4 linked regions of the Homo sapiens genome follow. The protein of the gene in region 1 purifies or fractionates together with the protein of each later gene. This does not show direct contact. Each region holds a gene or a part of one and is shown in the gene's direction. Other genes may lie near its edges. The genes, in order: HAUS5, SPICE1, TNFSF8 and NPTN.

The links.
Region 2: the proteins of HAUS5 (region 1) and SPICE1 purify together in Homo sapiens (affinity purification with mass spectrometry; one large-scale study listed by BioGRID and IntAct). This does not show direct contact.
Region 3: the proteins of HAUS5 (region 1) and TNFSF8 purify together in Homo sapiens (co-immunoprecipitation; one large-scale study listed by IntAct). This does not show direct contact.
Region 4: the proteins of HAUS5 (region 1) and NPTN purify together in Homo sapiens (co-immunoprecipitation; one large-scale study listed by IntAct). This does not show direct contact.

Annotation. Positions count from the first base shown.
Region 1 is NC_000019.10:35,621,061-35,628,642, forward strand, and holds the end of HAUS5 (HAUS augmin-like complex subunit 5), read left to right. Parts: intron 1-1,540; coding exon 1,541-1,673; intron 1,674-1,815; coding exon 1,816-1,933; 3' UTR 1,934-4,295; downstream 4,296-7,582.
Region 2 is NC_000003.12:113,500,696-113,508,656, reverse strand, and holds part of SPICE1 (spindle and centriole-associated protein 1), read left to right. Parts: intron 1-2,051; coding exon 2,052-2,150; intron 2,151-5,429; coding exon 5,430-5,477; intron 5,478-7,961.
Region 3 is NC_000009.12:114,914,707-114,922,667, reverse strand, and holds part of TNFSF8 (tumor necrosis factor ligand superfamily member 8), read left to right. Parts: intron 1-4,529; coding exon 4,530-4,572; intron 4,573-7,961.
Region 4 is NC_000015.10:73,565,102-73,573,062, reverse strand, and holds part of NPTN (neuroplastin isoform b precursor), read left to right. Parts: intron 1-2,639; coding exon 2,640-2,913; intron 2,914-3,256; coding exon of another isoform or gene 3,257-3,273; exon of another isoform or gene 3,274-3,349; intron 3,350-3,519; exon of another isoform or gene 3,520-6,125; intron 6,126-7,961. UniProt on the Homo sapiens protein: Probable homophilic and heterophilic cell adhesion molecule involved in long term potentiation at hippocampal excitatory synapses through activation of p38MAPK. May also regulate neurite outgrowth by activating the FGFR1 signaling pathway.

The DNA of each region.
Region 1 (7,582 bases):
GGTCCCCACCCCAGGGGTTTCCCCAGATGGAAGTAAAGAGTAAAGAATGAAAGGATAAATACATGGAAGAGGAGAATTGATGAGAAATGAACCGGCAGTGCCAGCAGCACTGGAGGAAGAGACTGTTCAAGCCTCTGAGTTTGGGGCTCCCTGCCCTCCACTTCTTCACAAGGGGAGGGAACAGTGTGCAGGAGCAATGAGAGCAGCCCCAGACCCCACACGGCCTCTGCCCACCTCAGCCTCTGCCTACCACGCCCTCTGCCCACCTCATGTGTTTTTTGTTTTTGCTTTTGTTTTTTTGAGACAAGGTCTCATTCTGTCACTCAGGCTGGAGTGCAGTGGTGCCATCCTGGCTTACTGCAGCCTCAACCTCCTGGGCTCAAGCCATCCTCCTGCCTCAGCCTCCCGAGTAGCTGGGACCACAGGCATGCACCCCACACCCAGCTAATTTTATATTTCTTATAATCATGGGCATCTTGAACTGTACACATCTATCATGGAACTCCTGGTTCTCTCTACTCCAAAAAACAATTTTGTTCCTCTTCTTGGTTTCCTTCCTTGTTAAATTATCTCACCCTCCTCATCCAAGTGCTGCACCCAGAAACCCAGGAGTCATCCTGAATTTCTCCATCACCCTAATCCCCCCACCCTCACCAGCTTCAGCCTCTCAGCAAGCCCTAAGGGTCCCATCCCCAGAGTTCTCCCATCGGTCCCCTGCCCCAGTAATTCCACCTGACAGCAGACGGAGCTGAACAAAGAGCCAGTGTCGTGATCAAGGTCACAGGGCAGGGATGGGATGGGGTCAGGATTCAGGCCCAGCTTGTCTGATCACGCTGCTCGTCTGCACTTGCTGAGCTGGGCCTGTTCTGTGCACATGGAGAGGTAGGCCCAGTCCCAGTCCCAGAGGAAAGCACCGCTAGGGTGAAGCTAGAGCAGGCGGAGGAGGAAGCCTTGGAGCGAGAGTGTTGGAGGGGCCTCCAGGAGGAAAGATACTCTCTACTGTGGGCCCTGGGAATCGGCCAGGCTTTGCCACATCATGAAACTCAAATACCTGCTGAAGGGCTTGGACTCTGCCTTGGGGGCACTGGAGAACCTTGGAGGGTTCTAGACAGGAGGGAGAGCATCAAATTTAGGCTTCAGGAAGATCACTGTGGTGTAGTGCGGAGGGTGAACCAGAGCAGGAGACTGAGGCCTGGAGCAGAGGAGAGGAAGAAACGCTCAGGAGACTGAGCGGACAGGCCATGGAGATTGATGGGCTCTCACGGGGAGGGAGGAAGGCATCCAGAAGGAGGCCTGGATGGGGCTGGGGGTGGTGGACTGCCCTTGAGATGAGGATCTGGGAGGAGGGACAGGTCCTCATCTCAAGGGCAGTCCCTCAGAAGGGGACTTCCAGGCTGGGAAGAGAAGGAGACAGACTCATCATTGGTTTGCGGGAGCTGCTGAGGTCAAGACTAGGGGACTGGAGAATTGGGGACTCATTGCTGTAAGGTACCAGCGAGCCAGAGGACTCAAAGCTGCCTCCTGGCTTTCTCACCCTCAGAGCTGCTGCAGATCCAGGCATCCCAGGAAAAACAGCAGAAAGAGAACCTGGGGCAGGCTCTGAAGAGGCTGGAGAAGCTACTGAAACAGGCACTGGAGCGAATCCCTGAGCTGCAGGGGATCGTGGGGGACTGGTGAGAGGGGAACGTGCCGCGGATGGGAAACAGAAAAGTCAGGACTCAAGCTGGGGGCCTGATGAGAAGGAGCAGGCCATGGTTTTGCAGGGAGGGTCTGGAGGGTCAGTCCTTTCCTCGTTGACGCCATGCCATTCCCCAGGTGGGAGCAGCCAGGCCAGGCCGCCCTCTCTGAGGAGCTCTGCCAGGGCCTGTCCCTGCCCCAGTGGCGGCTGCGCTGGGTTCAGGCCCAGGGGGCCCTGCAGAAGCTGTGCAGCTGAAGAGAGGGTTCAAACGGAAGCCGAGAACTTGACACTGTTCACCCCAACACCTCACCTCCCCCAGGACATTTGGAAGAAAGCAGCGCCAGGATTCCTCGGCAGTCGTCCCCACCCGCACCTGCAGTCCCCTCATGTGCTGTTCTGCTGCCCCACTCAGCTCCTGGACCCTGTCCTTTCATCCCGCTAAAGCACCCCCTAAAACCCCTTCATCACTTTCATTCTCAGCAAAAAGTAATTGAGCACCTCCTCTAGGCGCTGGGGAGTCCACACTGAACAAAAGAAACAGAAAACCCTGTCTTCCAGCAGTTGAGTTCTAGGGCAGGGAGACAGAGTTTACAAGATAAGGAAAATATATATGTAGTATGCTGCAAGTTAACTGCTGTGTGGGAAATCCAGCAGGGGGTGGGATGTGTGATTTGAATTGAGGGCCACACTGCCCAGGTCGTGCTCCGTCAAGGGGTGAGCAGGAGCAACAGGGGTGGCTGAGTAAGGGCTTGCAGCTGGAGGCAACAGCACATGCAAAGGCCCTGAGCCAGGATGTGCTGCAATAAGGGCCACTGAGGGGGACAGTGTAGGTTGGGGGTGAGGAATGTATTAAAAGATGAGATTGCCTTCTAGTTTGTATAGTTTCTTTTTTTACATGTAAATCAGCCATTTGGAATTTATCCTAGCACATGGATCCAATTTTGTCTTATTTTACATATATCCTAGTAGCACTTACTGAAATTCCCAGTCAGAGTGGCAGTTGCCTCTGAGGGAAGGTGGGTGGCAGGGATCAACTGAGGAGGAGACACAGAAATGTCCTAGCTGATGGGAATGTGCTGTGTCAAGAGCAGCGGCGGTGACGCAGGTGTAGAGATTTGTCAGAGCTCATGTAGTTGTAGTCTTAAGGCCTGTGCATTTCACTGCGTGGGTTACTCAATTTATAAAGCAAAGCCCTTACACTTTTGAGATGCCACCTTTTTATGCACTAAATTTCCATGTTTAATTGGGTTATATCTGGCTTCTCTCCAGACCTGCTTTGTATTTAACTCTCCATGTGTCATTCCTACAGTAGCTTAATAGAAAGGCTTGTGACACATTGTCATATCTGTTCTTGTTTTCTTTTGTTTTTTTTTTTTTTTTTTTTGAGATGCAGTCTCATTCTGTTGCCCAAGTTGGAGTGCAGTGGCATGATCTCAGCTCACTGCAACCTCCGCCTCCCAGGTTCAAGCCATTCTCATGCCTCAGCTTCCCCAGTAGCTAGGATTACAGGTACGCACCACCACGCCCAGCTCATTTTTGTACTTTTAGTAGGGACGGGGTTTCATCATGTTGGCCAGACTGGTCTCGAACTCCTGACCTCAAGTGATCTGCCTGCCTCGGCCTCCCAAAGTGCTGGGATTACAGGCATGAGCCACCGCGCCTGACCACATTGCCATATCTGAAATGGCTGGATTCTCTTAGGTGCTTTTCTTTTTCTTTCTTTCTTTCTTTTTTTGAGACAGAATCTGGCTGTTTCCCAGGCTGAAGTGCAGTGGCATGAACTCAGCTCACTGCAACCTCTGCCTCCTGGATTCAAACAATTCTCATGTCTCAGCCTCCTGAATAGCTGGGATTACAGGCACCCACCACCATATCTGGCTAATATTTGTATTTTTTGTAGAGTCGGAGCTTTACCATGTTGGTCAGGCTGCTCTCCAACTCCTGGCCTCAAGTGATTCTATCGCCTCTGCCTCCCAAATCTTCACCTGCTGGGATTAGTTTCCCCTGTCTCAGTAAATTTTTTTTCCCAAACTAAGTGAACATTAGATTTAATTTGGCTGGCCCCAGAAGAAAAACATGCACAGATGGTAGTTTTACTGGTGTTGCAGTAAGTTTTCAAATTTGGAAGTTTGGCAGCTTTATGATCTTGAACCTTGCTGTCCATCTCTCACACAACTCCTCTCTTGGCCTCCAGAGTCCCTTTACTCTCCCAGCTTTCCTCCTGCCCCTGGCTGCTGTTTCCCAGCCTTTCCACATTGGCTTTCCCATGTAGTCCTTAGTGTGTCTGCTCCTCCTCTCTCTCCTCATCACAGTTCCCAGCCCCCACCTTCAACTGAACTCAACAAAATCTTCAACTTCATACAGTAGTCACATTGTTAGTAATAACACTGGCATTTTTATTTTGATAAAATAGACCGTTTAAATTTTTGAGATTCTACCTTATATTTTTTGAATTATATACTAAAGCAAATAAGTAGTGATGTAATGTCATTGGGGACCAAGATTTTTAGTGTAAATGAAAAAAGATAACAAATATAAACTCAAGTAAACACCCTGTAGTCTTTCACATGAATTGGAAATATCAGAATAAAGTCATGATTTTTCTCTTTCTAAAAAATATGTATTTCCCTAGTTAAGTCCCCTGAAAAGGTCTAAATATAATGACACCCCAGTAACACTGAGCAGCACTAGTATACAGACTGTGGTCTCTATAAGTGCCATTTCTGACTAAGAACTAGGGACTTTTGTGAAAACAGCTGATTCCAGGTCTGGGGCAAGAAATGTGCAAAATGTGTCCAGGATATTTTGTGCCAGGAAGCAAAGAGTCCTCCAAGACTACTGTGGCCAAGTCAAAGGAACTCAGGAGCCAGTCTGAAGGGCTGTCACTCACCAAAGGTGGGACATGTTGAGCAGCAAAAAGAACCACAGTGGTTTGAAGCACATCAAATATGCCTGAATGTGTAAGTTCATGTTGATACTCATATACCTCATTGAAATCACCTTTGAAGAGTACTAGGAACCCACTCATTATTTTGAAAAATTTTTTATATATAAAATAATCCAGCATGTTCTCTATTTTTCTTATATGTGAACAAGTAACCAACTTTTTTTTTTTTTTTTTTTTGAGACAGGGTCTTGTGCTGTCACCCAGGCTAGAGTGCAATGGTGAGATTTTGGCTCACTGCAACCTCCGCCTCCTGGGTTCAAGTGATTCTCGTGCTTCAGCCTCCTGAGTAGCTGGGATTACAGGTGCGCGCCACCATGCCAGGCTAATTTTTGTATTTTTATTAGAGGCGGGGTTTTGCCATGTTGGCCAGGCTGGTCTCAAACTTCTGACTTCAGGTAATCTGCCCGCCTCAGCCTCCCAAAGTGCTGGGATTATAGGTGTGAGCCACTGTGCCCAGCCTAAGTAACCAAATTTCTGATGAAGAGGTTATTTATGGAAGAATCACAACTAATAACTTCAGAGAAAATACTAGAATTCAAAAACCACTATTTGCTATTAATTAATCTAGTGATGGATACAGGTAATGATGATCAAGGGCTACTAAAACTATTAGGGGAAAGGTTGATTGGGCTTCTTAAAATAGGTAGACCAGGATGACACCACTGATCAATCCTGATGCCAAAGGAAGGCAACCAGACATCTTGTGCTTCTGATGGGATCCAATAGGATACAAGGGATATGATACCATACAATATTATCTATGAAGTGTGCTTTTACCAAATTAAACCTAAATCTCATCTAGCCTTAGCTCTCACTACAAGCATATGGGAAAGGGGCAGAAGGCAGTCAGAAACAAGTGAAACAAAAAGGATGTAATTAGTTAAATTCAAAATGTGTGACACCCTATAGGATAAATGATCCAGTTTCTTCAATAAAGAGAAGGCAAAAGGGGGAATGGAGAAAGAAAGAAGAAAGGGAGGGAGGGAAGAAGGGAGGAAGGAAGGAAAGAAAGAAAGATGGCAGGCAGGCAGGTATTCATTTGTACTGATTCATACTGCAGCTTCAAGAAACCAAGGCAGCCAATAAAATTAAATTTTCTTTTTTTTTTTTTTGACACGGAGTCTCGCACTGTCACTGGAGTGCAGTGGCACAATCTTGGCTCACTGCAACCTCCGCCTCCCGGGTTCAAGCGATTCTCCTGCCTCAGCCTCCCAAGTAGCTCGGATTACAGGCGCTCGCCACCACGCCCAGCTAATGTTTGTATTTTTAGTAGAGACGGGGTTTCACCACGTTAGCCAGGCTGGTCTTGAACTCCTGACCTCGTGATTCACCCGCCTTGGCCTCCCAAAGTGCTGGGATTACAGGTGTGAGCCACCTCGCCTGGCCTCTAAGTTTTTCTTGTTGGTAAACATCTGAGCAAGCAAAAATTTAAGTTTTGACAGGAAAAAAAAAAGACAATCAAATGCAATATTTGGACCTTGTTTTGATCCTGATTCTACTATCGTATAAAGACATTTTTGAGACAAGGAAAACTGAACACGGTCTGGGTGTTAGATGATACTAAGAAATTAATTTGATGGTATTCATAATGGCATAGTTAATGGTATTTTTTTTTTCTTGACACTGAGTTTCACTCTATCGCCCAGGCTGGAGTGCAGTGACGCGATCTCGGCTCACTGCAACCTCTGTCTCCCGGGTTCAAACAATTCTCCTGCCTCAGCCTCCCGAGTAGCTGGAACCACAGGCGCACGCCACCACGGCCGGCTAATTTTCGTATTTTTAGTAGAGACAGGGTTTCACCATGTTGGCCAGGCGGGTTTCAAACCCCTGACCTCAGGTGATCCGCCCACCTCGACCTCCCAGAGTGCTGGGATTACAGGTGTGAGCCACTGAGCCCAGCGTTAATGGTATTTTTTAAAAATAGTTCTTATCGGCCGGGCCGAGATCGCGCCACTGCACTCCAGCCTGGGCGACAGAGCGAGACTCCGTCTCAAAAAAAAAAAAATAGTTCTTATCTGTTAAGGAGACATAATGGCGCATTTATGACTGAGTTGATGTCTGGAATTTGCTTTAACATACTCCAGCAAAAAAATATAAAAATAAGAAAAGTATAAGGCCATGCGCAGTGGCTCATGCCTGTAATCCCAGCACTCTGGGAGGCCGAGGCGAGTGGATCACTTGAGATCAGAAGTTTGCTACCAGCCTGGCCAACATGGTGAAACCCCGCCTCTACTAAAAATACAAAAATTAGCCGGGTGTGGTAGTACACACCTGTAATCCCAGCTACTAGGGAAGCTGAGGCAGGAGAATCCCTTGAGTCCAGGAGGTGGAGGTTGCAGTGAGCCGAGGTCACACTACTGCAATCCAGCCTGGGCGACAGAGCGAGACTCCGTCTCAAAAAAAAAAAAAAAAAAAAGAAGAAGGTACTTTGTAACATTCTCCCCGCCCTTGAGAATGTACTTTATAAGCCTATCCCAAACCTGTAAGAACTAATGATAATCCCACCACCCTTTGCTGACTCCTTTTTCGGACTCAGCCCGCCTGCACCCAGGTGAAATAAACAGCCTTGTTGCTCACACAAAGCCTGCTTGGTGGTCTCTTCACACGGACGCGCGTGACAAAGAAGTATAGATCAAGTGAAATCCAGAAGTGTTGAATATTGGTAGCGTTTGAGATGTACTTAAGAGTGCGTTATACTATTCCCCTTAATGTGCATGTTTGAAAATACTCAGAATAAAACACTTGTGAGGGCTACGGGAAAAAAAAAAGGGTCAGCTGTGGCCCAAGAAAGGACAGGGACCAAGCCCACGGACGTGCTCCTCTGAGTTGCACTAGTCTCTGGGCCTTGGCTCCCACCCTGAACAGCTCTCATCTTTAAATGTCTTCAGCTGTCCTCCTCCAGGAAGCCGGGTCAGGCGCTTCCTCCCGGGCGTCTCCGGTCTTCCTGGAAACCACAG
Region 2 (7,961 bases), on another chromosome or scaffold:
GAGCAATATGTGAGGATTCTAGTTTTTCCATATTTTTGTCAGTGCTTGTTGTTGTCCGTCTTTTTGATTATAGCCATCCTAGTCGGTGTGAGGTGGTATCTTGATTGGCATTTCCCTAATGACTAATTATGTTGAACATCTTTTCATGTGTTTATTAGCTGTCTATAGTATCTTCCTTGGAGGAATGTCTATTCAAGTCCTATGCCCATTTTTAAATCGGATTTTTTAAATTGTCGAGTTGTAAAATTTCTTTATATAGTCTGGATTCAAGTCCTTTATCAGATAGAGGATTTGCAGATACTTTCTCCCATTCTATTGGTTGTCTTCATTTTCTTGATTGTGCCTTCGAAGCACAAAAATTCTTAATTTTGATTACGTCCAATTTATTTTTTTCTTTGGTTGCTTGTGCTTTTTGTGTCATTTCTAAGAAACCATTGCTTAACCCACGGCTCACGAAGATTTACTCTTATGTTTTCTTCTAAGAATTTTGTAGTTTTAGCTCTTATATTTAAATCCATGAATCAATTTAATTTTTGAATATGGTGTGAGGTAGGAGTCCAACTTCATTCTTTTTCATATGCGTATCCAGTTGTCCCAGCACCATCTGTTGAAAAGACTATTCTTTCCCCGTTGAATTGTCTTGGCACCCATGTTGAAAAACTGACCATAAATGTAAGGGTTTGTTTTAGACTCTTTGTTCTATTATATTCTGTATCTTTTTAAATGGTACTTATGGCTCTGCTACTTACTAATTGTGTGACCTTCATGGTTGGTTAACTTTTGTCTCTCAGTTTTCTCGTTTGTAAAATGAGGAATAAATAGTAAGTACCTCATGGGGTTATTGTGAGGATTCAAGAAAATAATGTTTAAAGAGCTTAGAATAGCATCTGGCTTATAGTAAGCACACGGTATCTGTTAGCTGATGCCATCATTACCACCGTGGCTATCATCATCATTACCATCATAAAACTTAAATGTTATTTTCTAACTTGTATGTGACTTGTTTTCTTTGGCTGAAATTGTAAATGCTGAAATTAGATACCATGTTTAAGGAGTGAATGTTCTTGTTAAGAGAGAGTACAGAGTGCAAGGAAGATTGAGGGCAAACTCTTAAGAAATACTTGTATTTAGACATTTTTATTATAGTAGACAATGATTTTTTTTTAAAAAAAAGTACTTAAGGAAAATACTAGAGTCCTTGTTTTAGACTAATTGGGAGTAAGGGGGTCAGCTGGAAAGTCCTGTAATTATTTAGGTAGGTTAAAAGTGTCTGCAATAGTAGTCATGTATATGTATTGCTTTTTAAAAGTCATATATATGTATTGTAAAATCCTGGTGTTCGGGGACTATGGGTCTTTTTCTAATTTGGTGTAATGTGTAGTCTAGTGTGCTTAGCATTGCTGTTTAAACAGTGGCAAACTAATGTTGGCAATTTAAAAATTCTAGTTTAAAATCAATAATTATTAATTTGTTTATCAGCAATAGAAAAAAATCAATAATTAGCACCATTTAGCATTATGTGACAGATATATTAGAAGTGATATCATACCTCATTTGTTCTCTAAAGTTTAGCTACTTTTATTTTCAAGTAAGCCCATATGTACCTGGTAGTGATTTTGAGTGTTAGAGTGCTTAAAAAAGAACTCCAACTCTCTTTTGCCCTTTCTTCCCTTCACCTTACATTCATATTGTTAGCTTGTGACTGGGCTATTTTCTACTAATTGTAAATTTGTGTAACTGATGACAAAGCTTATGACGAATGTCTTAGTTCTCGGCTTTAGGCCATAATTTCTGCATTCCTAGAGTTCTTTTTTAATCAAATATATAAGTTATTGACTTGAGACCTCTTTTATTATAATTATCAGTACCAACATTTATTAGTTGTAAAATAAAAGAACTAAGTATTTTGATAGGCTGTTCCTTTCATCATGCTTAAATTTTTCTTCTGGCATTTTAAAATTTGTTTTTTTTTTCAGGTGTCTTCCCCCACTCTGGTGATGCTTATTGTTTTTTCTTGTATTTTAAAAATTTGATGTGATTATTATTCCTAGATGTCATTTGTCAGAGTGAACCGCTGTGGTCCCCGAGTTGGTGTAAGAAAGACACCGAAAGTAAAGAAGAAGAAAACTTCAGTGAAACAAGAATGGGATGTGAGTATAGGTGGGATAGTAAATAATGTAACATTACTCTGGAGAAATGGACACAGTGATATGGCCCTAGTCATGCAAGATGGTGTTCTGAATGGGGCTCATCACGTAATAGGGTGGAATAGGTTTCTGGGCATGTGATATTCTAGGTCTTGGAGGGAAAAGCAGAATCCTTTGGGGGAGGTTTTTAGAATACACACATCCAGGCTGTAACCTCTATATCCTCTGAAGAATTGGAATCCTAAGGGGATGGGGAGCATATTTTAAAAAACGTCTTTTCACTTTGACTCTGAGAACTCACTGCATAAAGGCAACTCTAGCTCACTGGTGTCAATGAAGTCTGTGAATTTTTCGGTACCTTTTTTAGGTTTGCTCAGAGCAACCAGTGATATCATAACCATGTGAGTGCCAGTTTTGGCTGAAAAAAATAGGTGACCTTTGCTCTCTTATCCCATGAATTGCTCAATTCCAGAGGTTGATCGGTTTCAGAACAAATGTTCTCTTGTGGTATAAGACAAGGCTGAAGTACCTGTAACATGTGATGTATGGCTCCTAACCTGAATATTGCCTGGTGTTACCAAGGGGATTTATATCTTTTTTTTAAGAGACAGGGTCATGTCCTGTCACCCAGGCTGGAGTGATGTGATGCCATCATAGCTCACTGCAGCCTTAAACTCCTGGACTCCAGCAATCCTCCTGCCTTAGCCTCCTGAGTAGCTAGGACCAGAGGCATGCACCACCACCCCTGGCTAACTTAAAAAAAATATTTTTTGTAGAGACAGGTCCTTGCTGTGTTGCCCAGGTTGGTCTTAAACTCCTAGCCTCAAGCGATCCTCGTGCCTTCGCTTCCCAAAGTGCTGGGATTATAGGCGAGCCATTGCACCCAGCTAGATTTCTCTTTTGTGACCTGATACTTTGGTTTGGACCATGAGACTTTAGGTGTCTTTACTTTCCATTGTGAAGAGTAACTAGTTAGGGATTAGTTTGGATCTCAGGGATTCTTTTGGACTTGGAATCTTCTTGTTTGCAACCTACCATGTTAGCCAGATATCCTGGGCAAACTGACAGCCTTTGAAGTGGGGCAGCGGGACTTCTCTGTGTTTAGATTGTTTTGTTGCTGTCTGATTGGCTATAAAATTTTAATAACAAGGATGTGACTCTAAGGTAAGGAAACTGATAAATCGGAAAAAAAAAATATGTGATAACATATTTTCCCCTTCAGAGTGGTTACTTTGAGAAGTTTAGTACAGTTGACCTTTGAACAACATGAGTTTGAGCTGCACGGGTTCATTTACGCATGAATTTTTTTTCAATAAATACAGTTGGCTGTATCCTGGGGTTCCACCTCTACAACGAAAGGTGGATTGAAAATACAGTGTTTTCAGGATGTAAAACCCAGATATGGAGAGCCAATTAGGTGGGATTTGAGTATGTGTGGATTTTGGTATATGTGGGTGTCCTGGATACTGTGGGATGACTGCATTTATTCCAATATGCCACTATTGCTTAAAACTTAATTGAAATCTATCATTTGAAATTGCATTAAGAACCTTCCTCATTTTATCTGCAGTGCTGGAAAAATCTTTTGTTTTTTGAAGGTAGACTGAACTTGGAAAATAGTCATAAGTCATTTGGAGTAAATGGTAAATGATGGAGAAGAGATCAAACTGATTATTACTGTCTTGATAAAAATAGTGAAACATTTTCTGAAATGGCTTGTAGATTAGATTTAAATGGAATGTCAAAAGAAAATGGTTTTAAGCAATGGTTTTAGTATTGATGGAATTATTATTTTCTTCCATGAGAACAAATTTCAAGCCTATCACTTACTTGTATGCCTGAGTTTTTAAATGCCTATTAAAAACAATTCTCATGATCCTGTAGTTGTACCTTGTACCTTTCTTTTCCTTTTCCCTTTTTTTTTTTTTTTTTTTTTTTGAGACAAGGTCTTGCTATGTTGCCCAGGCTGGCCTCAGACTCCTGGGCTCATGATGAGATCTTCCTGCCTCGGCCTCCTGAACCTCCTGGGTAGCTGAGACTACAAGCGCACACCACCATGCCTGGCTCTTGTACCTTTCTAAATCATTGTAAAAGTAATAACAGTTTTCATACAGAAAAGCCTTGAGCCAAATATAAATCATGGCCAAAAAGTTTAGTCTTTGATCAGAAGCCATTTTTGACTGTTCGTATTCCTCGTCACTTAGAAGTAAAACTAACTTGTTTTATTTCCTGCCTTACCAAATCTGTGTAGCAAAATGGCTGAAGTTGCTTTGGAAAGGGCCAAGTTACAGGGTTGCTACTTAGAGCTGTGCAGCCTGTGTACCACACAATTTCAAGGGGTGCTATTTACACGGACTCTGATATTAATGGTAACTTATGGAGTTGTGCAGGGTGGTAGCCCTGCCATGATAGTTTAGTGCCTTTTAATTTAACTGACTGTTTTTACATTTTATGAAATTATGCATTGCCCTCAAATTTCATCTTCCATTGTAGTAGCATCTATGCTTAAGATGTTTGCAGACACAAATTGAACCTCTCTATAGTGATCACACTTTCTTTTTTTTTTTTTTTTTTTTTTAGATAGAAACTCGCTTTGTTGCTGAGGCTGGAGTGCAGTGGCACAATCTTGGCTCACTGCAGACTCCACCTCCTAGGTTCAAGTGATTCTCCTGCCTCAGCCTCCTGAGTAGCTGGAATTACAGGTGCCCGCCACCAGGTCTGGCTAATTTTTGTATTTTTAGTAGAGATGGAGTTTTGCCATGTTGGCCTGGCTGTTCTCGAACTCCTGAGCTCAGGTGGTCCACCCACCTCAGCCTCCCAAAGTGCTGGGATTACAGGCATGAGCCACTGTACCCAGCCAGTGATCTCACTTTCTTTTAGGAACCTTTAGCGTTACGTTGTGGAATCCTGGGATTCCATAGACTACAGTGTGAAAACTAAAACTTTAGTTAAACTTACTCATTTTGAATATATACTACCATTTATTCATATATCATATATTCATTTTGAGTATTTTCATTGTTTTACTATAGTGTATGACTGCTTGGTGAATACAGTACTTATTTTCTGTAAGACATCTAAAATTAGTCTGTTATTTTCTATAAATAGGACACCTAAAACTAATATGTGTTCATATCTAAATTGAGAATACTGGTTCCTAGAAAGAAAGAATTTTTGGTCCTAGGATTTTGAAACCATTTTAGCCATTAAAATCCAATAAATGTGTATATTTTATAAGAAAACTTTTTTTTTTTTTTAAAGAAAGGCCACCTTTTTTTACAGAATACCGTGACTGATCTAACCGTTCATCGGGCAACTCCCGAAGATCTGGTGAGTTTAATATCAAAACTTAAGTCATTTATTCAGTGTTTTATTTGGTATTTGACTTGTAACCTTTAGAATAGAAACTATAGGCACTTCCTGGAAGTTGTTCAGTTATGTTTAATCTTGTTTATGTCTATATAAAATCAAAACGCCTATCTTCTGGACTTCCTGATTTGAGCTAGGAATATCAATTAGTATGTATTAGAGTTTCATTAAATATGTTGGGTTTATAGTTGAAATCTCTTCAGTCTAGTACTGCCTGATATATATCTATCTATCTGCCTTTTTAAAAAATCTATAGATATCTTCAGCATTATTTATTACTTCCCTATACAAACATATTGTTCTAGTCAGTGTAATAATTTCTGTGTATTTCCATGTCTGAGCCCCCATTCCTTACTTGGAACAGTTTCTGTACCTTCTTCTCTACCCGTTCAAATCTTACCTTACTTCCTTATCCTAGTTCAAATCCTACTTTTTTTTTTTATGTTTCCACTTAGGTTTTTTTTTTTTTTTTTTTTTTAAGATTTATTGAGATATAGTTCACATACCATGAAATTTACCTGTTTAAAGTGTGCAGTTTGGTGATTTTTGGTATATTCAGAGTTGTGCAACCATTGTCACTATCTAATTTTGGAATGTTTTCATTACCCCAAAATGAAACCCTCTACCCATTAACAGTCACTCCTTGTGCCCAGTTCTTCCCAGTTTGTGGCAATGACCAATGTACTTTGTGCTTTTATGTATTTGCCTATTCTGGTCGTTTGATATATGCGGAATACAACACGTGGCCTTTTGTGTCTAGCTTCTTTGTCTTAGCATAATATTTTCAAGGTTCATCCCTGTTGTAGCATGTATGTCTCTGCCCACTGCAGCCTCCACCTCCTGTGATCAAGCCATCTCCACCTCAGCATCTTGAGTACTTGGGACTACAGGTGCATGCCACCACGCCTGGCTAAGTTTTGTATTTTTTGTAGACACAGGGTTTTGCCGTCTTGCCCAGGCTGGTCTCGAACTCCTGGGCTCAAGGAATCTGCCCACCTCAGCCTCCCAAAGTGCTGGTATTATAGGCATGAGCCACCACGCCCAGCTCATAGTAGTTCTTTATTCCTTATAATTGCCAAATAATATTCCATTGTATGGATCTACCATTTTATTTATCTGTTGTTCAGTTGGTGGACATTGCATTGTTTCTGCTTTTGCATTGTTAGGTATAATGCTGCTGTGAACATTCATGTACAAGTTTTTGTGTGAACATGTATTATCAGTTCTTTTATATGTATACATCTAGGAGTAAAATTGCTGAGTCATATAATTTCTCCATATTTAACTTTCTAAATAATTGTCAAACTGTTCTATGAAGTGGCTGCACCATTTACATCCCCGCCAGCATGTATGAGGCTTCCAGTTTCCTCACATTGTTACTGTCACCTTTTTCATTTTAGTTCTCTTAGTAGGTGTAAAGTGCTGTCTCATTGTGGTTTCAATTTGCATTTCCCTAATTGATAAAGGATGTTAAGCATCCTTTTGTGTACTTTTCGGCCATTTCTACTATATTCTTTGGAGAAATGTCTATTCAAATACCTTAGTCATTTAAAAATTGGATTATTTGTGCTTTTATTGTTGAGTTATAAAAATTATGTATGTATTCTGGATTTGAGTTCCTAATCAGATATAATTTGCAAGTATTTTCTCCCATTTTCTTAGTTGTTTTTTCAGTTTCTTGATGGTGTCCTTTAAGCAGGGAAGTTTTTAATTTTGATGAAGTCAAATTTACCTGTTTTTTATTTTGTCACTTGAGTTTTTAGTATCATACCTAAGAAACTGTTACCTAACCCAAGGTTCACAAAGACATACTCCTATGTTTTCTTCTAAGAGTTTTATAGTTGTAGTTCTTATATGTAGAACTATGATTCATTTTAAGTTAATTTTTCTGTATGGTGTGTGGTGGGAGGGGGGCCCAACTTTATTTTTTGCTAAAGGATAATCATTGTCCAAACAGCATTTATTGGAAAGACTATTCTTTCCCCATTGAATGATCTTGGAACTCTTGTTGAAAAATCACTTGTCCATAAATATAAATGTTTATTCAGCACTCTCAATTCTATTTCACTGATTTATATGTCAATCCTTATGCCAGTACCACATTGTCTTGATTACTGTCGTTTTATAGTAAGTTTGAAGTCCTGTTTTTGAAACTGACCAACAGTTATCTCCTCTGAACTATTACTACCTAACTTAGGCATTGAGTATATGACATCTAATGTATATCATTTGTCTTTATAAGGATGTGCCCAATCTCAATGGGCAGATTGTTAATGCTTTTGAGAGATACAGACCATATCTTATACATCTTTGTGTACCCAGGAGTCTTAATCCTAGTAGGTGCTCATTAACTATTTACTGAGAATAATAATTATGCCCAACTGAGTTAATATTTTTTAAATGAAAAATTTCAAACTCAAGGGAAAATGGAGATAAAAATAGAAA
Region 3 (7,961 bases), on another chromosome or scaffold:
TCAGCTTTATCCTGCCCTCATCTAGAGAGGCAATGTAGCAGGACATTGAAGAGCAGTGCCTTCAAAGTCAAACACCTAAGTTTGAATCCCTTCTGTGCTATTCGCCACCTGTGGGACCTTCTATAAACATTATCACATTATGAAATCACTTCTCTAAGTCTTGATGAATCCGTAACTCTTGGGGTCAAGTTAAAGGCCAAATGAAATAGTGCATGTAGAGTAACCCTCATTAAGTGCCCAATGAATTAGCTTGAAAATAAGAGGTATCCTTGGCAAAAGTCCCTTTGGGCCATGAGCCAGAGCCCACCTTACAAGACTATGTGAGGGCAACAAGGAAAGGAATGTGGACTTCCCCTGGCATATTCCAAACAGAGCTGCCTTTGATCATTTTTGGTCCACGGGGGCATTTTGTGTCCAAAGCAAATTCAGGAGCTCATTGCATCTGCTGATCATTCCTCTGTGAAAAGAAACAAGCCTTTCAAGGTATTGAGGCAAATTAAGCACATCATTAACACCAAGGCAGTGCTCAAAATAGCTATGCTTTTCAAATACTTGCTAACACTTTATAATATCTTATGATGTCCACAATAACCCAGTGGAAAGATGGATGATTAGCCATCTAACCACTGATTAAAGGAGAAGAAAACACTCCAAGGCAAGGAAGATGGTTGGGATGGGGGTCATTTTACCTGGAGACAAACAGGTTAAACATGACCATTCCTCCCTCCATACATGAAAATAACTTTATTACTGTTGGGAATACTCATCAGACATCTACAGAGGCCAAAAACAGAGGAAGTACACTTAAGGAAGTATACCTCGTTGATAACCACGGAGACAAAGTTTCCTGAGCTACTCAGTGGAGCTGAGAATGAAAACCTGGGAGAGTCCATTTGTTTGTGCCTGCATTCAGCCTAGGCACTACCTTACACAAAGCCAAGTCATTGAGCAAGATAGTTCACATTTCCTGAGCTAGGACCCAGATCCCCAGACAAGATTAGGGAGAGAATTCTAGGACTGGGGGACATCTTGCCAAAGAGGAGTTGGTGAACAACACTTAGTGTAATACCTGTTTATGAACAGTCTTCACTGAATTTCAACAGCCATCATCTCCTTAGACATTGCTTCTCCACCTCCAAATGCAGGGACTGCTTATGGGAGAGGGGAGGAGGGAGGAATGAGCTCTTCTATCCTTTGTTTCTGGAAACAGCATCTCTCCTAGGGCAGTGGAAAGTACACCAGAGAATTTCAGTCCAAGATCTGCCTCTGACTCATGAGTGCCTTGGTTTCCTCCTCCATAAAATTAGCTTGATGGACTGAAAGATGTCTCAATCTCCCTCTGGCTTTGATTGTCTAATCTTGACTACCATGGGTAGCTAGGAGAAGCTGTAAAGACCTCATCCCAAGAGCTCTTCAAAATAGGAATAGTCACGCTTCTGTCATGGACTTCCTGGGCCCTGGGTGAAGGTTTAAATGACAGGTTTCTTTCCTGTTTGAGATGCTCTGCTTTTGACATCCCATGTCTGAAATTAGGAAACCAGAATGCATTCAAGTGACAGAGAGAAAAGAGGCTTTCCTTGACCCCCATATAAATTAGGTCCTCCTCTCTGATATTACTTCTCACAGCTGTGCTATTCAAAGTGTTCTGTGGGCCAGGAGTGTCAGTATTACTCGAAAGCTGCCAGAAATACAGAATGTTGGCCAGGTGCGGTGGCTCACGCTTGTAATCCCAGCACTTTGGGAGGCCCAGGCGGGCAGATCACAAGAGGTCAGGAGTTCAAGACCAGCCTGGTCAACATGGCGAAATCCCGTCTCTACTAAAAATACAAAAATTAGCCGGGGGTGGTGGTGGGCCCCTGTAGTCCCAGCTACTGGGGAGGCTGAGGTAGAGGAATTGCTCGAATCCAGGAGATGGAGGCTACAGTGAGCCGAGATTGCGCCACTGCACTCCAGCCTGGGTGACAGAGTGAGGCTCCATCTCAAAAAGAAAAAAATGCAGAATGTTAAACTCCCCCCAAATCTGCAGAATCAGAATTTGCATTTTAACGAGACTCCCAGGTGATTCATATGCACATTGAAGTTCTAACAGCACTACCTTAAAGCACTATGATTCTTTTCCTCCATAGCTCTTGCCACAACCTGCAATTCTAATTACACATTTATTTATATTTTTTAAATGGCTGCCTTAATGACTAAAGCATAAAATCCATAGGATGTCTTTTAGTGACTAACGTAGTTCCTACCACAGACCAGGTGCTCATTCAAGGTGTGCTGCATGAATGATTCTCTAGGACTTCCCGAACTGCTAGCAGCCTCTGCAATGATGGCTGTACCAGGTTTGCTATTCTAGCCTCTCTCACTGTCCCTGTATATGTCCCTGGGCAGCTTGATGAATTTGATGATTGTGGTAAGACATTTCAATGCAGATATTTTTCTTAGTGCATTTGCACATCATGCTAATCAATGGTCACGCTTGGCAGTAAGTTGTAAGTTGTTTATTAAATTTTAAAATGTTGTGTGTTGTCTCACAAGGGCAACATAAAGGGGAATTTTGTGATATCAAGTTTTCCTGCAAACTGCATGCATAACTGAAAGACTACAAAAACTTAGCTTTGTTAGGTTAAAAGCTTTCAACTAAGGCAACAAAGTCGTAGACTGTTACAGTAGGAAGGGCCTTCCAGGACAAGTTTGCCTCCCTTCCCCTGAGAAGGTAGGGCCCAAATGTTTAAGCTGACTTCCCCCATCTCCAGATTGGTGCTGTGCCAGGGCTTTGCCTTCAGGAGACCTCCTTGACTCACTACCAACCTCTTGCACTAGAGAAGAGATCCATTCATAAGAAAACAAGCTTTCAGCGGAAGGCAAATGACAGACCTCCCAGGGAAATGTTACAATAATAGGGGAACTCCAGATGGTCCTAGTGTTCATACAGAACACTAAGAAAATAAGCTGTGGGCGGCTGCTAATTTCTTGCTTTGGTAGAGGTTAGGAAGTTGGTTTTTTCGCATACACACGCTCACACCTCTCTAGGTCTTTACTAATATTTTAATTCAATGCAATACAGGAGATTCCAACCTGGGCAGGTCAAAAGATGAATAAAATACTTCATTCCTTATTGGCAGAATATTGTATGGGTGTCTCCATGGCTGGAGAGAAAGGGGAGGGACAATCAGGGTGTGAAACTTAGTGTCTGAAGAATTTATTAGGGGAAAAGAACTGTGCCTCTCTGCTTCTGTTAACTCCTTGTTGAGAGTCCTTGAACTAGAACCTCCCTTTAGTCACCTTCAATCCCCAGCCCAGGATTCCCTCCTTCAAAAGACAATCTGTTTCTATCAACCTCTTATTTGTGTAAATATTTATGTATATATTTATTACAGAATAAATAATATACTATGTAAATGTTTAAATATATAATATGCATTTGTATGTATACTACATGTGTATACATATTTGTATATTTAAATATAAACTTGTAATAAATCCATAAGGATGGGGACCCAATTTAATTATGTATGGTGTCCTCACAATGCTTGGCATATAAACACACAATTAATTCAGAATTTCCAACCACAGGAGACATAGAGATGTACCTTCCCAGGTATGTTTACAACATACGTTCACAGATGAATCAAACATGGAAAAAAAAAAAACACATCTACTTTTATGATATACTTGATTATTCTCATGTTGACCAGAAGGAAAAAAAAAGAAAAAAACACCCAAACATATGGAGGGGGGAAAAGCACCAGATTGGGAGTTGAGTCCTGGCTCTAGCCGAGTGTGATAGCTCACACCTGTAATCCCAGCACTTTGGGAGGCTGAGGCGGGTGGACCACAAGGTCAGGAGTTCGAGACCAACCTGGCCAATATGGTGAAACCCTGTGTCTACTAAAAATACAAAACTTAGCTGGGTGTGGTGGTGGGTGCCTGTAGTCCCAGCTACTCTGGAGACTGAGGCAGGAGAATCACCTGAACTGGGAGGCGGAGGTTGCAGTGAGCCAAGATAGTGCCACTGCACTCCAGCCTGGCAACAGAGCAAGACTCCTTTTTTTAATTAGCTGAGTGTAGTGGTGTGCACCTGTACTCCCAGCTACTCAGGAAGCTGAGGCAAGAGGATCGCTTGAACTCAGGAGGATGAAGCTGCAGTGACCCATGATCATACCACTGCACTCCAGCATGGGTGACAGAGTAAAACTTTGTCTAAAAAAAAAAAAAAAGTCCCAGCTCTGGTCCCTGATCTTCTATAAATTAACTATGTGGCCCTAGGCAAGTCATTTTATCTCACTCAACCCCGTGTCTCTTGCCTGTGGAACGGGGACAGTAATCCTCATCTTGCATTTCTAATAGATTGTCAAACAAATGGATAGAAAGCCCATTGGAAACTACATCAGTGAATTAATTTTTAAAATTCAGGTGGAGGATGAATTGTAAATTGCACAGTACTTTAAGGACAACAAAATGAAAAAGAAAAAAAAAAGTTGTTTCAACTGAATGTCACACCTCATGCTGCTTTTTTCTTTCTTTTCTTCCAGGACTCCATTCCCAACTCACCTGACAACGTCCCCCTCAAAGGAGGTAAGATCTTGGAATTAGGTGTAAATGTGTAGTAAGTCATCTAGATAAATGCCATAAAGTGTGAAACCTGATTATCAACCAGAAACAACTCTATGACATGACCCAACAGTAAAGTGGGTAGGGGTGGAGGCAAGGGCTGTTCAGGACTGAGCTGATGCACCTGAATTCATCTTAGCAGCTCCTGAACTCATCCCCACAAGTCTCCCACCAGCTCTTGACACTCCCACTAATGAAAATTCTACCTCTGGCATAGGCAGGACTGCAAGGCAGTGTTGTGTTAAATGCTTGAAACCTGAAATCAGATAAATGGGGGAATGAATCTTGGCTTGACTTCCCACTGGGGAGCCTCAACTCCTCATCTGTTAAATGGGAATAATAATAATACTCACCTCATCAAGGTATTGGAGAAGCCATTCAGATCTCATCTGTAAATTGCTTGGCATGGCAACCAGCACATAGTAATCATTAAATAACTAGTAATAGCTAAAATGCATAATGAAGTCAAGGACTTGTGAAAACAGACTTCCTCCTCACTCCTATATTTCCAATCATTGAAGTCACTAATTAACACGTCGTCTCTACTAGCCTCAGAGAGATGATATGCCGAGTTCAGTTAACATCGATGATGAGAAATTTTCAGATGACCTGATTAATGTTTTTATTGCTCAGAGAAGGAAAAGGAAGACCCAGAGAGGGAAAGTGAAGTATCTCGTCCAAGGTCATACAAAGCCAAGCCTAGAACCCAGAAAGATGTCCTCATCTCTGATACAGTGTCTTTTCTGCCCAAGAACACCAACTCCCATCTCAGTCCTGTAACCTTTAGAACCTAGATGGCAAACACAGCTGGATAGCCAGAAAGCTCAGAGCAAAAAGTAAGGAAGTGAGTTAATGTAGGCACCAGGGTAGTGGCACAAGAGTGTCCTTGAGACCAGAGGACACAGATGACTGGACACAGCTCCTCACACTCACAGCATCACACTTGGAGTGTCCTTCAAGTTTCCCTTGCCCATGCCTTTCCTGTGGTTTATCACCCAGAGACTTCAAAAATAGGGGCAAAAGTCCCCAAAAGACAGGGATTCTGGATCTTTCAAGGCAGACTAATAATCATAGCCTTGTCAACAATATCTCATTTTGGCTGGAATTACTTAGCATGTGACCTCAGTTCCTACCATGTCTATGTAAACAGTCACATTAATATTAAAAGGAGCATAGTAGAATGCAGGGGTAAGCAAACTTTTTCTACGAAGGGCCAGATAGTAAACGTTTAGGCTTTGGGGGTCACTATGTCTCTGTTGCAATTAGTCAGCTCTGCTGTTGTAGTGCTGAGCCAGGCTGACTACACGCAAATAAGTAACCACGGTTGCATTTCCATAAAACGTTATTTATCAAATGAGGTGGTGGGCTGGATTTGGCTTATGAATTGGAGGAGTCACTGCAGGCTTTGGAGACAGATGTTTCAGTTAAACATGTAATGCACGTTCACACGGAGCTTTGGAAAAACCAAAAGGCTCTGAGTGAATATAACTTGCCCCTCCCCACTCCCACTGTTCCACCACCACCTCCACCCAGACTTTCCAAGGAAGATGGAAACTTTTCATTTTTTGACAGGGAGAAGGGATTTTTAACATGAACACGGTCTCAGTGACGAGGATAGTTTTGATTAGGTAATAAGACCTTAGCCATTCTGGATCTCAGTTTCCTCGCCTAAAGAGCACTTCAATGCAAAGTCGCCAAGCATAGGGGCTCTAACTAGTATTCTGGTACCATAATAAAGTTGATAAAGTTTTCATCAGTCCAAAGTGAAGTACAAAAAATAAGGACACGGTAGCCCCCTTTTCACAGGGCCAACTATATCTAATGTAAGAGGCACTCTTCCTCTGAGACGGTCCTTCATTTTTGTGTGTCAAAATGTCCTTTTTTTACAACATGAAGTTGATATAGACAGGAGTTAAGTTGGCTTGTTTTTTGCCAGAGTTATTTTGTTTTGTTTTAATCATCACAATAGGCAAAATAAAAAGCTGTCCACTTCATATTGGTCTCTGAATTTTCATTCTGGGGAGAAATTTCCTGGGTCTATAAAGTCCAAACTTTTCACAACCATGGACGAAATCACTTATCACATTTCTTCTTATCTGGACCATGAATGGGAATATCAGAACACAAAGTAATCAAAACCAACCTCAGTTTACAATTCAATGTTTCCACAACCAGATTTTTTTAAATGCTAATAATATTCGGTTGGTGTAAAAGACATTGCAGCTTTTGCCGTTATGTTCAATGGCAAAAACCATGATTACTTTTGCACCAACTCAATAATCCCCATGGGACTGTGAAACTTTTGTTAAAGACCTTCCCATACCTCCTTTGGGTTCATTCTCACCTCAACCCTGTGAGCAAGCCACAGCAACATGGGGAATAGTCTTCCCATTTTGCAGATGATGCGCTGAGGCCTAAAGAAGCCAGGTGATTTGCCCAAGGTCATACAAGGAGTTAATGGCCAAGTGAGAATCCGGGGCTCCTCCCTCTTCTCCCTGCATGACCGGCTTCCACCATGAGATGCCAGTGACCTGCTGGAGGCAGTACCTGACTTTCTCTTGCTTTTAATGCAAGTCAACATCCCCTTAATTCAGCAATCTGCAGAGACACTGTAGTAGGGTGAGGTAGAAAAAATATTCCTGGGCTCCAGAACTGACCACATCAACAAGTCTTTTCTCCTCTCTGAGCCTCATCTGTAATATAACAGCAATGTACTAAATGCCCTGGAGGAGTCTCTCCAGCTTTGACCCTTTATGAGACTATAATTCTTTTGTACAATATGTAAAAATAGAAGAAAAAAAACCTAACAAAAATCTCAAGGAAATCTGAAGTCACAGCTTCCTTCCCCAACGAACCCAGCTTAAACAGGCACAGAAGCAGTAAATTGTCCCTTTTGAAAAAAGCCATTGCAAGACATTCCAGGCAGAGGGGAACCATCTTTCAGGTACTCTTGGGAGGAAGCTTCAGGGGCAGCATGTGGTTTGTCACTAGAAAGGAAAAGGGCAGAAGCTAGACACCTTCTAGGGAGCCCTTTTTCACTGGCTGTTGAAAATCTTCCACCATCAGCAGAAAATCAGCAGTGGCTCAGAGCCTGGGATGTAGAGCTATGTGCACATGCTAAAGAAAAAACACAGGATACACTTCGCTACAGAGGAAACACCAAAAATCAAACCCTTTTGGGTAATGAAAGGATTTCTGAGTCCTATCACAAGCTTCCCATTCCTGGCCAGGATAGCCCCCAGCCAACTGACACCTCACAGGCAGTAAGCCAGGAAGAGCGCCTGGGAGGAGAACCTTTCCCCCACACCCTTCTCCTTTCTGGGTTTTAGTTTTCTCACCCAGAAGACAGAGTT
Region 4 (7,961 bases), on another chromosome or scaffold:
TAGAGAAACTTAGAATCATGGTGGAAGGTGAAGGGGAAGCAGGCAGGTCCTAGGTGGCTGGAGAGGAGGAAGAGAGTGAAGGAGGGAGATGCTACACACTTTTAAACAACCGGGTCTCATGAGAATTCACTGTCAGGAGAACAGCAAAGGGGATATCCGCCCCCATGATCCTGTCACCTCCCACAAGGCCCCTCCTCCAACACTGGGGATTATAATTCACCATGAAATTGGGGTGAAGACAAAATCCAAACCATATCACTTGCCTTCAGGATAGGACACTGAAAGAACCGAGCCTAATTCTCGTCCATTTATCCTGAAGAAAATACTGTTTTTGAAGTGGTCTTAGAGAACCTGCCTTGTTTTTTTAGTAGGAAACAAGGTACTGAGGGCAATTATTAGTACATTCCTGCAACACAGAACATACTGATAAGGAATTGGGGCAACCTGAGGAGGCCCAAGGTACTGAGGGCAATTACTAGTACATTCCTGCAACACAGAACATACTGATAAGGAATCGGGGCAACCTGAGGAGGCCCAAGGGCAGCCTTGGCAGCCTTAGACATTGGGAACCTGACGGTATTTGCCCCAGAAAATGTCAAAGAGAACATCTTTTCCGATCAGTGGGATGATTCATGATGTTGTTTGGAGAGTCAGAGCTTTAGAACCTCACTTTCTCTCTCATTATGATTGTTGACCCATTACCTTTTCTGTCAGAGAGCGTGTCAAGCGTTCCTCTGATCCCATGGATCCTCTTTGATTATCAGTCTTCAGAATCCAAAAGGACCTTAAAGATCATTAATCCATCTTCTTTGGAAGGGTTCCATAGTAGCCAAGATAAATTAGTGGCAAAACCAAGAGTTGTATCTAGTTTTTTTAAATTTCAAGTCCATTATTCTTCCTACTTCATGACATCTTGATAATAAAATGTTGAGTTGTGATAATGACTCCAACATCAGCGATGATTTCAGAGACCCGTTAACGAGGAGCAGGATGAGGATTGCCGAGGTGAAGATGCTGAGTCTTTTTTACAAGACACTGAACTTTCTAAGGCACTGGAGAGGAAATGTCCACTTCTCTCTGCTGGTCACTGGGAAGGAGTGCCCTTGAGCTTTTGCCAAAGCAGGTTGGAATTAACGCAGTATGTGTTTTAATCTGAAAGATGAAGCTTGAGGCATCACAGACTAGCTGTTTTAAAAGCTTACGAGTTCCCCATTTCAGATGTACCTGCACTCAAATGCTGACAAGATTGTATGCCATATCTAGAATCATTTCCAGGATAATATTCCCCTTTTTCTCTCCTATTTCTGATTGTGCTTTAGTTGTTGCAGGGTAAAGACACATGAGTCTGTTTTTTCCCTGCCGGGATCTCATGAGCTGAGTGCAGTGAGCCATCCCGCTGAGTCCCGACCTCTGCCTGTGCACTCTTGCACCTCTGCCTTCACACCCATGCGAATCCCTGCCTGCACTGCTCCTCCCTGTTTGATCAGCTGTCCTCCTCCACAGTCTAGTGCAAATGTTAGCTCATGTGTGAAGCTTTCCCTGACTCTTTCCAGCAGTGGCCACTCACTGTGCCCTACAGCACTCTATACACACGCTCTGTTGGGGCTTCTTAACACATTCCTGAAATCAGTCATCCCTTTTTGGATGTCTGGTTCCCTTTTGAGGCCAAGCTCCTTATTCATTTCTAGGTCTGTCTTCTCCCTATCTCACCTTCTCACTCCCACCTGCCCTTAGTAGGATATAAAGCATGCAGCATATTTTAGTAAATATTTGTTCTCTTTTATTTGTTTGTTTTGTTTTGTGTTAAGACAGGGTCTTGATCTGTCTACCAGGCTGGAGTGCAGCAACCTCCTGGGCTCATGTGATCCTCCTGCCTCAGCCTTCTGTGTAGCTGGGACCACAGGTGTACACCACTATGCTCAGCTAATTTTATTTTTGATTTTTTGTAGAGATGGGGTCTCAGTTTGTTGCCAAGGCCAGTCTTGAACTCCTGGGCTCAAGCGATCCTCCCACCTTAGCTTCCTAAAGTGCTGAGATTACAGGCATGAGCCTCTGTGCCCAGCCACAAATATTTGTTGATTGATTGAATAACCTTTCCTCTAACCTCTAGTCCTTAAATGAAAGGAAAGTTATGAATTTCCCCCAGTCTGACTAGGAGTGAGTTCTTAGCATTGTTTGTGGAGGAAGTTTAAGGAGACTTCCTCAGAACTCACCAAGTGTGAAGTCAGTGTGCTGACTCTGAGGTCATCAGAGAGGCCTGAGGTCCCCGAGGCATGCCTGACTGTAGGGGTTGTACCCCTCCTTCTGCCGTCCTCTTTCTGCTGTGGTTTCTTACCTGGTGTTGGAGGCAGCATTTACTAGGTTGTTGGACTTTTCTGAGTCTCCAGGCAGTAGGACCTGCACTCACTTCGTGGAAGTCGGGGAAGTCTGGAGGACCGATGGTAAGGGAGGCTTGCCTGGCTCTGTCAGAAGTTGATTTGTTGTTGTTGATACTGAAGGGAAATCATTAATGAAATGTTCCTAGACACTGCTTCCTCATTCTGGCTGGTGCCTAAAAAGAACGGAGAGCAGTGTCACCCTCTCTTGAACATTAGCTCAGTTACTCACTCTCACCTTTGTGTATTCTCACTTTTTTGCAGGACATTGTCAATACCTCTGGCCGCTTCTTCATCATCAACAAGGAAAATTACACTGAGTTGAACATTGTGAACCTGCAGATCACGGAAGACCCTGGCGAGTATGAATGTAATGCCACCAACGCCATTGGCTCCGCCTCTGTTGTCACTGTCCTCAGGGTGCGGAGCCACCTGGCCCCACTCTGGCCTTTCTTGGGAATTCTGGCTGAAATTATCATCCTTGTGGTGATCATTGTTGTGTATGAGAAGAGGAAGAGGCCAGATGAGGTTCCTGACGGTAAGAGCATCCCTACAAAATAGCTGTACTGCTGGGGTTGGTTCCTTCGGGTGGTTTCCAAGTACCCAAAGAGGACTATAGGGATGTTGGGATTCAATCCCTAAAGGAAAGAAGGAAAATTCTTATACCAGTTCCTAACCCCCTACCCGTAAGAGTTTTTTATTTTTATTTTTTATTTTTATTTTATTTTTATTTTTTTTGCATTAGCCATCTAGAGCTGTCCTTAGCTCTCTCCCTCTGTTTGGGTGTTTTCCAAACCCTAGTCCCATCTGCCTTTCAGGCCCCATGTGGTGAATGGGCAGCTGTCAGTCTCTTTGTTCAGCTCTGTCCTCCTTCAATACAGATCATCAGGCAGATTGAGCTTGAGGAGAATCCAAGTCAAGCCTAGAAGCCACCCCAAGATGGCAGGCCACCTGGCCTTTCAGGCAGATTTAAGGTATCTAACTGGTTGTCACATGGTTGCCTGGTGTAGCCCCTGTAGGTAACTGCCCCAGCCCAGTCAGACTGTTCTCAGAAAAGCCATTGGAACAAGCCAGCTTTTGGTTCCTTGGTTGGTCCCTTTGATAGGTTTCCAGCGCTCTCTGCTGGGTGGCTTTCCATCTGTGTCTCACAGACAAAGGAGAGTCTGATGTATCCACCCATCTAGTGTAAGACAGAGATAGCAAAGGCGGAACAAATGGAGTCCATGCCCCGAGGCTGTGCCCTCAAGCTGGCCTAGGGTCAGAGAAGGGAGGAGATGGTAGCAGCAGAACCACAGCACACCACTGAGCACTGGAAAGAGCAAGAGCTGAAATCTTAGGTTATTGGATATGCCTAGAGTCAGAAAAGCCTTGGGAAATTTTTGGTGATCGATTTTTCCTGTGAAGGGGGAAGCTGCTGATGGAGACTTGTATCTGCAGTACTTCAGGTTCCCAGCTGGCTCCCCATCCCCACCCTATAACATGACCGGCGTACAGAAATTAATTGGCCGACTGTTACCACCACTAGTCTGTCCCTGGCTAGACTAGACAGATGGGTGTGCCCCTGGGCTCAGTGGTAGCCTACCCGGGGTGATGGTGGGGTTGCCAGCTGTAGTCCAGCTGTTCTGGGGCCTGTGTTTGTGCACCTGTGGTGCTGTATCCTGCCCCACAGAGCTGGCTGTCCAGTGGAGAATACAAAGTGACATCTGGTGCTCCCTCAGAAAGAATGTGGCCCCAGAGGCATGCCAGTGGCTTTAGACTCTCTGGGAGGACATGTTTGAGAGCAACAGCCCCTTCCCCATCTTTTCCTTTCTTCTCAGCAGTTATAAATCTCTCTGCCTGCAGTAAGTAGAGTGAGTGGCTGGTGAGGAGGTTTGTTGATGACACTGACAATATCTGGTGACTCCCTCCAGATGTGCACTCAGCAGTGAGCTGGGCAGAGGCGTGGGAAGGACGTTGGCTGGGAGCAGACGGCCTCTGCAAATGAATCTCTAGTTTCCTGCAACCTGGGAGTGTCCCCATGAGTTTTACTTTCCTACTTTATGAAGTGAACCTGCTTTCTTTGGGATTTCATGTACTCCTAATGCTTTTTCTCTCCAGGTATTTCTTTCCTGCTACATATTAGGACTCCCAAGGCAAGAGTGCACCTTTATTTAGACCTGGGAGTAAAGGGAAAGAGTTGCCTGTCTTTCGTGTGTTTTCAGCTTTGGCTCTGTGGGATCAGTTATGCCTCATTCCTGAAAAGGGCCTTTTTATCCCCCCAGAATGCTTTTGCTTTGCCAATACCACCTTCCTCAGCCTGCCTTTTGGAAAGGTTGAGAAGCTAAAAAGTCAGGTAAGAGAAGGCAGAGATGGACTTCAGAACCTGATTTTTAAATTTTAAGGCAAGGCTGGCTGCCACTGGTGAGAGTGATGCAGCAGCCTAGCGTGTTCCCAGCAGAGGTCTAGTCTTTGCCCTAAGAAGTCACCGCGCTTATGAGGTTGCTATCACAGTGCATGTGGTAGGTTAGATTTGAGAAATGGTTAGGATTGTTCTGTTGGATAAGTGCAGACACCTGCCCAGGGAAGCAGCTCTTTTTTTGTAAGAGTTTTCTTGGTTACTGAAATCAAATGGGGGACCAGTTTGTTATAGGAGACATCTGTGGCCAGCAAATCTGAACAGCTTCCTAGAGGGAAAGTACCTCTTTTAAACTAAGTTATTATAGACAGTGAATGAATCCTACCCTTAAAAGAGATGACGGCAGGGTAAGTGCAAAGTAAAACCTCCTTGCTCTAGTCTCTTGGGAGAGTATTGTAATGAAAGCAGCGTTTACTTCGTTGTTGTTGCATTGGGGTGAAAAATCTGAGATGCTGGAATGATGGCAATGTTTGCCTTCTCTCCTTCCCTTCCTGACAGCCAGTGTGGGCCAGGCTCCACTCTCCATCTTCACACCCTGCCCTTGCTCCAGTATTTCCATTCTGTTTTTCTCCTCTGTCTCTTTCTGTCTTTCTCTCAAACTCCATCCTGCTTCCACCCCTGCCCGCTTTTCTTCTCCTTTCCTGGAAGTAATCATTAAACAAAAGAAAAAGTTGAATGTTCTTTGGTGAGTTTCCTTCTTCTCTGCCTTTTCCTTCTTTAGCCAGTTCCCCTCAACCCCTGTGCACTCCATAGGAAGGACAAACTTACCTGTCTGCTTCCTTCCCATGTGCTTCTCCCCAAATTTTCATATAGATATATACGTACACTCCTTTTGGAATAAACGAAGAGGTACATTATATTTGACACAAACTTGGGAGTGTTAAGAGGTCATAAGTGTTTACCTATCAGATAACCATCTGTGGCTCTGTGTTGGATTTTTTTTATACCATTAGGAAAATGGGAATTTTTTTATAGGCCTGCCATACTTCTACTTTGCCAAATAGCACTTTATTATCAAGATACACCCATGGCTCATTTCAGACTCACTGAACTTTTTTTATATGAATGCACAGTCGTCATATTTTGGGCAGTCTGTGAGTTCTTGGTAACTCATCCCCTTACTACAAAAGCACTAAGTGAACAATACAAAAGTATAAAAGCACAAATTTGAACTTACATAGTTTAGTTTAAGTATGTTTCACTAGAAAATCAAATATTTAGATTTCTCACATTGAAAATGCTTAGGATTGAGGTTTAGCTGCTTCCTTTAAAAAAAAAAAAAAAAAAAAAGCCCCATGTCTTTTTTCTTTACCTACTGGAGTATTCTCAGACCATTTCCTACATGAAAACACCCACCTGCATTCCTTTAGTCCCCTGTATGGTCTCTTTGAGGATCAGTGCCCACTAGGTTGTCTTGTAGGTGGACTAATCTACAGATCACCTTTACCTTCAGTATTTTCAGGAACAAGTGAATCATGGAGTCAAATAAGAGCTTTGTTTTGTTCACTTGACTCACCACTTGACTGTATTCCCTGAAAATGTTAAATGATAGTTCTCTAAAAAGACCAGGTCAAGCTAGCAGCCTCTAGGCTTCCATCCATGTCACAGCTGGGCACCTGCTTGGGTGCACCTTCTGTGTTGGTGTCCTGCGGACTGCACTCCAGGAGCAGTCAGCCTGTGCTCCTGAGTCTCCCCTCCCCAGGCCCTGGAGGAATGGGGAGTGAACCCACTTAGTTGCTGAGGCCTGCAGTTCTTCTGGATATTTTAGTGACCTCACAGACAGCAAATTAAAACAGGAGCTGATTTAAGAAAAGAAGTGCTGGTACCAAAAAAGAACTTTCTGTTTTTACCTTGGGATAATTTTTTATAAGCAAGTCAAAGGGACTCTCTTTAAGTTACTGATGGAGAAGATATTTGAGGTTTTTTGGGGGGCCATTTTTAGTGGCTCTGATATATCCAAGCTCTTTTAGACACTTTAGAATGAAGAGCTGTTCTAATGTTCCAAAATCTATTCGTTGGTCAAAACATTTGGTAGCATATGAAGCTTTATACAGACTAGGGATATTGGAAAAGAAATGTGACTTTTAAAATGACACCTAAAACATGCATTCGGTGTCTGGTCTGTTAACTAGGGGCCATCTGGGTCAATAACAAGTTACCTCATGGAGAAAATGCAATAGGACCAAACAAGGAAGGAAATAGGAAGTAACTCAGTCTCTCTTGGGTTTAATGCTAACCTGCTAAGGTCAGGCAAAATTTAAGTGGATTTAGAAACCATAAAACCTTCTAGTGAGATGAATGCAGTGACAAAGGACCTTTGACCAGAGAGTCAACTCTTCATTATTCGGACTTTAAAGCCATCTTTTTGGAGGTGATATTGTATTAGGCAATCCGTTATTTACTAGACATTGCAGAGCACCCCTTCTAGATGATGAGGCGGATATAGGGGGAGTGAGGGCTGTGGTCCATTCGGTTGGGAAGATGGAACACGCAGATAAATCAGTGTGTGCTACAGTTCCACCGGTAACTTCACTCTCATAAGGTGGATTCCAGAAGCATCTTGTTTCCATTATCCCCCCAGTCCTCTTCCTCTCATCTAGCCAGTGGCTGTAATACTGAGGTGGAGAGAACAGTCATTGTTTAAGCTGGCTATCTTTTGGCCTGAGGGTTTGGGGTATGTTGATATTTGTCGGTTACTATGACTTCTTTTTTTTCCCCCCTCAATTGCATCAAACCCTTAAAACATGGTGGTAAGTGAGCGATATGCATGCTTTTGGAGTTTGTTTAATCTCCGCTTCAGTCTATACGATGCACAGTTCATAATGTTAACACTTTTCTTCAAGTTTACTTCATTCACTTTCACAACTAATTTGGATTTCAGTTTGCTGTTTAATCCTCATTTACTTTGGTTTCTGTATCTTTTTTCTGTAATTCTGTTCTTTCCCTCTCCCCTGACTTCCCTGTTAGGGGTCAAGTCGTTTTTTTGTCTGACCTGTAGGGGAGAGTGGTGCTGCAGATAGTGATTCAGTCCAGGAGAGTGGGGAGACATGAGGCTCTTTTGTTTGTCAGTGTGAAAGTGGATTTGGGGAGACAGATGAAGAGGGCTCCTGGGATTTTGCCCCCTTGTGAATCTCAACTGCTCCCACTTGCAGGCATGGCAGCTATGCCGGAGGCACTGTCGCTAAAACACC